Linked DNA regions of Homo sapiens: region 1 is linked to region 2. A link means that fine-mapping ties the variant in region 2 to the expression of a gene that starts in the linked region. Tissue or cell type: whole blood. Region 2 holds a variant in brackets; the other region holds the start of a gene. All regions are shown on one strand. Distances are between the middles of the regions.

What was found. PIP is the estimated chance that this variant, and not a neighbour inherited with it, causes the effect. A credible set is the group of variants that fine-mapping cannot tell apart.
Region 1: it holds the start of PGM3, and the variant in region 2 is the best candidate, but not a certain one, in a credible set for the expression of PGM3 in whole blood (INTERVAL, PIP 0.54).

Annotation. Positions count from the first base shown.
Region 1 is chr6:83,191,804-83,194,618 of GRCh38, reverse strand. It overlaps PGM3 (phosphoglucomutase 3), which reads left to right and starts at 1,354. Exons shown (of 13, transcript NM_015599.3): 1 at 1,354-1,440. RWDD2A (RWD domain containing 2A) reads right to left here and starts at 1,262. Exons shown (of 3, transcript NM_033411.5): 1 at 1,176-1,262; 2 at 1-307. The coding sequence starts at 167. RefSeq lists silencers at 964-1,333, 1,634-1,703 and an enhancer at 892-1,391.
Region 2 is chr6:83,228,634-83,231,448 of GRCh38, reverse strand. It overlaps ME1 (malic enzyme 1), which reads left to right. Exons shown (of 14, transcript NM_002395.6): 10 at 2,518-2,623. Among named protein-coding and RNA genes, the nearest start is that of RWDD2A, 37 kb to the right of the region's middle. The variant C/A (reference allele first, on the strand shown) is at 1,308.

The sequences.
Region 1 (2,815 bases), 37 kb after region 2:
TCGATTTTTGGTGGCAGCGCCTCCCTTGTGCCTTCCAAATACCTCTTTATATTCGTCAGGGCATTTACATCTTCAAGTTTTACTTCTCCTTGGTTAGGAAACATAGAAAACAGCATTTCCATCTCCAGTAGCTGAAGCTGAAGGCTTTCTTTCACCGAAGCAGACATGTTGCCTCGCAATCAGCCTGCCTGGAAACCTCACAAGGCTCAGGGACGCTGGGTTTGTCAATGCCAGCCGGTATCCAGCGAAATTTCCCGAAGGTCCCTTTACGTGGAAGCAATTCTGCAGGAACGCTTTGCACCGAGAGCTAGGGGCACAAACCAGACACTTGCACTCTTCTTTATTTCCTGACTCCAAAATCTAGTATGCACAACATCCTCTAAAACACTCCGTAAAAACCCATATTCTGCGTACCCGGGCTCCGGGTTCCCGCCTCCCGCACCCCGCACTAGATAGGGGAATCTGCACTTTCAACAGGTGTTTGGAACTGTCCCGCTGCAGGTGGCAGGCAGACACCTGCAGACGCTCTGCAAGCCTGAATTCTGGGAAAGGCTGGGGCCCGGCTTCCAATCCCACCCGGGGCTCGGGCTTGGGCGGAGCCAGACGCTGCGGCGAGAGAGGCCGCAGTGCCAGCAGGATGGGCTCCGAGTTCCCCAGCGCCAGTCGCCACCCCTCGGTCCTGGACTCGCGGACCGCCCCCCCCCAACACCGCGGTGGCCTTTTCGCTTGGGCCGCATTCCAGGGCTCCGGACGTTTACGATTCACTGGCCTCTGCCCCGAGGGACCCAGGATAAGGGTAGGGGGTGTCTCAGAGGTCATTAAATAAAAGATGTTTACAGTGAGCTGGGGGAAGGGGGTACCCGGGGAGACGGCAGCCGGAGAAGGCTTCCCAGATTCAAAGGTTTGGGAGATGACCTCGACGTCGGAGAGGGGGATGCGGGCCGCCGGCGGCGCTCACTGTGGGCGAGGTCGCCCTGTCCGAGGCCCAGCGACGGGGCTGATTCCCCACCCCCGCCCCTAGCCAAGACCACTAGGAACCCCGGCTTCCCAGGAACGCAGGGCCTGCCGCCCCCAGAGGCCCGGATTTGGAGGCGGAGGCTGTGCCTCCGCGGCCGCAGTGCTCTGAGGGCCCGCGACCCTCGGCCCCAACCCCCGGGCCACCGCGGGGGCCTCACCCTTTCTGGTCACTCAATGGTAACAGCCCCAGACCCCGCTCGGAACCGCAGCCGCAGTTCCTCAGGCGCCAGCTGCGCGCGACCTGCGGCGAGGCGGGGGCGGGGCTGGCGGATAGTCCTCTGCCGTGATTGGCCAGGGGGCGTGGCGACGAGCCGGAAGCCACGCAGGGCCACGTCTGCGGTTCTGAGGACTGGGTTTGGGTGCAGACGTTGTTGCTTGGGCGCTTCTCCGCTGCGTGTAGGTGAAGGGGGCTTCCTGACCGAGGTAAGCCGGGCCCCGAGGCTCGGAGTTGAGAAGGGAGACTACCGGTCGGCAAGGGCTCGGTGGGAGCGGGACAGGTCAGATTCTCGGCCCGACGGAGGGGCTAGTGGTCTGGCGGGCGACTGACCGAGCGGCGGAGCGCGCGGGACACACCTACAGGCCCCTGCGCCCCGCGGGCGGGCTGGTCGGGACGGGCCGCGGGTCTCCTGCCGGGGCTCTGGTACGTGGACCTAGGCGGGGACCTCAGGGTGGAGTGCCGGGAATCACCCTTGTGCGGTGATTCGAGGGTAGGCGGGAGAGAGGCACCAAGGAGATTTGAAGATTGAATGGAGAGTAGGGGGATACTCTTAACTTTTTGCGTGGACGCTGGATTTGGCAAATATGCTTTCAATAAAGGCATTCGCAGAGGCATTGAAAGTAGTTGTAGGGCCTAAAACGCATGAAAGGATGAACTCATATTATCTGGACCTTTTTTTTTTTAATGGCTTTTTGGAGTTAACAGGACTGGTTTACACTCTTATGAATAATCATGACACATAACTGACTGCTCAGTTTTTACAAATATGTATTCATCCTTAGGAAAGAGATCTGATCACTGTCTTGAACTAAATTAGTTTACTGAATGCCAGCTTTTTCCAACTGGACAAAAGCAAGTATTTTTCACCATTTCTTGCAAGTTCTGTTCATTGAAGCAATGAAGGACAATAAAGAAAACAAAATTATGAGGCTAGCAGCTGGCGGACTGCTCCTCATCTCTGGGCTAATTGGGAATTAATTGACCCAGGAAATGTAGTATATGGACTACTGAAGGAAAACTACTGACTGAGGTTGGAAACCCCAAGTTCCACTTAATGGGAGTATCCCAGAGAAAACAGTATTAGTGGGCTAAGGGCCGATTTTTTGTTGTTGTTTGTTTTGAGACGGAGTCTCACCCTGTCGCCCAGCCTGGAGTGCAGTGGCGCGATCTCGGCTCACTGCGACCTCCACCCGCGGGTTCAAGCGATTCTCCTGCGTCAGCCTCCTGAGTAGCTGGGACTACAGGCGCGCACCACCACGCCAGGCTACTTTTTGTATTTTTAGTAGAGACAAGGGTCTCACCATGTTGGTCAGGCTGGTCTTGAATTCCTGACCTCGTGATCCGCCCGCCTTGGCCTCCCAAAATGCCGGGATTACAGGCCTGAGCCACCTCACCTGGCCTGTTTTTTTTTTTTTTTTTTTTTTTTGAGACCGAGTCTCCCTTTGTCACCCAGGCTGGAGTGCAGTGGCGCGATCTCGGCTCACTGCAACCTCTGCCTCCCGAGTAGCTGGGATTACAGGCGCCAGCTAACACGCCCGACTAATTTTTTTGTATTTTTAATAGAGAGGCGGTTTCGCCATG
Region 2 (2,815 bases):
AAGTAAGACCTTCAGTATTGCTAGTATTACCATTTCGTGATTCCTGGACTTTTTTCAGCATTCTTTCAGCACTTGTAAGTCATACCAGGAATCAAGCCTTTGAAAGTGTTGCCATGGGTAATTTATGCTTCTTACTAGATGGAATGTCTTCTGGCTAAGTTCTGGCTTCAGTGTCTAGGAGCTGCCAGTGGGTATACTATGATTAATAAAGATGTTTATGATTAAGTATATATCTTTTTCTTTTCATACATTATTCATCTGTCTTTTTTATTATTTGTTTCCCATTCTAGGCAATTTAAATATTTTTCATTATATCTCAGCTTGACAGCCAAAAAAGCTGTGACTTCCAATTTATCTTATTCTATAGCTTTTCTTCTTTAGACTCATTATTGTATACTTTTTTGAAAACATAGCACATAACCTCTTAAAAACGCATGTGGTAGGGATATGATAGATCATTTAGTACACTGATTCTCAAAACTGGCTAATCATTTCTTTTTTTTATTTTTTATTTTTTTGAGACAGAGTCTCGCTGTCGCCCAGGCTGGAGTGCAGTGGTGTGATCTTGGCTTACTGCAAGCTCTGCCTCCTGGGTTTATGCCATTCTCCTGCCTCAGCCTCCTGAGTAGCTGGGACTACAGGCTCCTGCCACCACGCCCAGCTAATTTTTTGTATATTTTTAGTAGAGACGGGGTTTCACCGTGTTAACCAGGATGGTCTCGATCTCCTGACCTCGTGATCCGCCCGCCTCAGCCTCCCAAAGTGCTGGGATTACAGGCATGAGCCACTGCGCCTGGCCTACAGCAGATTATTAATAGGAGAAAATATACCAAAACTTTAAGTGCTGGAATTATGATTTTTTTCTTCTTCACAAAAATTTTAATTGCAACAACAACTAGCATAGAGCTCTTACTATAAACCAGGTACAGTCCTGAGTGTTTTACATGCATTACATTTCATTTACCCCACAAACAACCTGATGAGGTAGAAGTCCTTATTATCCTTATTTACAGATGAGGAGACAAGCACAAAGAGGTTCATATGTTTCAAATTTTTTAATAATTCAGTATATTGCTTTTAAAAACAGAGCCTGTCTCTACTAAAAATATAAAATTAGCCGGGCACATGCCTGTAATCCCAGCTACTTGGAAGGCTGAGGCAGGAGAATAGCTTTAACCCGGGAGGCGGAGGTTGCGGTGAGCCGAGATCGCGCCACTGCACTCCAGCCTGGGCAACATGAGCAAAAACTCTGTCTCAAAAAAAAAAGACAAACAAAACAAAATTAAAAACAACAACAACAACAACAA[C/A]AACAAAAAAAAACAGAGCCTGGCATGGTGGCTCACGCCTATAATCCTAGTGACTCAGGAGGCTGAAGCGAAAAGATCACTCCTGAGGCCAGAAGTTCGAGACAACCCTGGGCAATATAGCGAGACCCCCATCTCTAAAAAAAAATGATAAATTAGCCAAGCATGGTGGTGCATGCCTGTAGTTCCAGCTACTAGAGAGGCTTAGGTGGGAGGATCCCTTGACCCCAGGAGTTCAAGGCTGCAGTGACCTCTGATCCACAGCACTCCAACTTGCATGACAAAATGAGACCTCATTTCAAACAAACAAAAGCAACAGAAATAAAATGATAATACCCTTTAAAGAAAGAAAATTGTACTATCTTCATTATTAACAATTTGCAAAGACTATGACATACTATTTGTTAAGTTTTTGCCCGGGGTGATTCTGTGCTATATTGAAAAGGCTTTGAGTTCTAGTACAATCTCTTGCCTTGAGCAAGTCCCTTAAAACCTCTGAACATGTTTCCGCATATGTAAAATGACTATACTTATACTTGTCCTGCTTCTCAGAATTGTTGAGGGGATCAAATGAAATATGTGAAAACAACTTGTAAGTCATCAAGTACCATATAAAATTAGGCAGTGATCCATTATGTAGTCAAATCTTTAAAATTTGCAGCTAGAATATTATAATTAGATGTTTACTAGATAACACATGGCGCATTCATAATCAGAACATTAAAAACAAAAACATATAAAATGCATACTTACTGAGAAAATCTAACAATGACATAAATATGACTTCAAATTCTTTTCTTAGTCAGTAGCATAAATTGGTAGGGCTAAAGCTGAAGCCAACTCCAAATTCTGAGACCTGCTATAAAACACAATGTGTGACGAACAATATAATTATTTAAATTATATTTTGCATGGCCATTTGTTAATGCTAGTTCTCACATGTCTGTAAAATTAGGATTTTTAATATCAATTAAATGAAGGACTTTGTTTTGTTCACTGTTACATCTCCATTGCCTAGAACATTGACATATAAATATTTGTTAAACGAATGAATGAAATAACATTCTGACAATTGAAGAAGAGATTTTAAGAATAGCTGTAACACATCATACATAAAAATGTTAAGCATAAATATTTGTAATATATGTACCGAAATTTATTGACCCTCACATGTTTGGCAGATTCTTAATTTTTTCTTACTGGCTTTACTTAGGGACGTGCTTCCTTAACACAAGAGAAAGAGAAGTTTGCCCATGAACATGAAGAAATGAAGAACCTAGAAGCCATTGTTCAAGAAATAAAACCAACTGCCCTCATAGGTAAGCATTTTCTCCTCTCCCTTCTCCCCTACCCCTTATTTTGACCTGATTGTTTTTTTTACTACCAATTTTTGAGGTATAATTTAGCCTTTTTGAATTCAAAAAACTACACGTTCGCTCAAGCGACAGTACCCTGTAGAGACCTAGATTTTTAACTTTAGTCCTGTCGTCTTTCTCTTACTGATCTGAGAT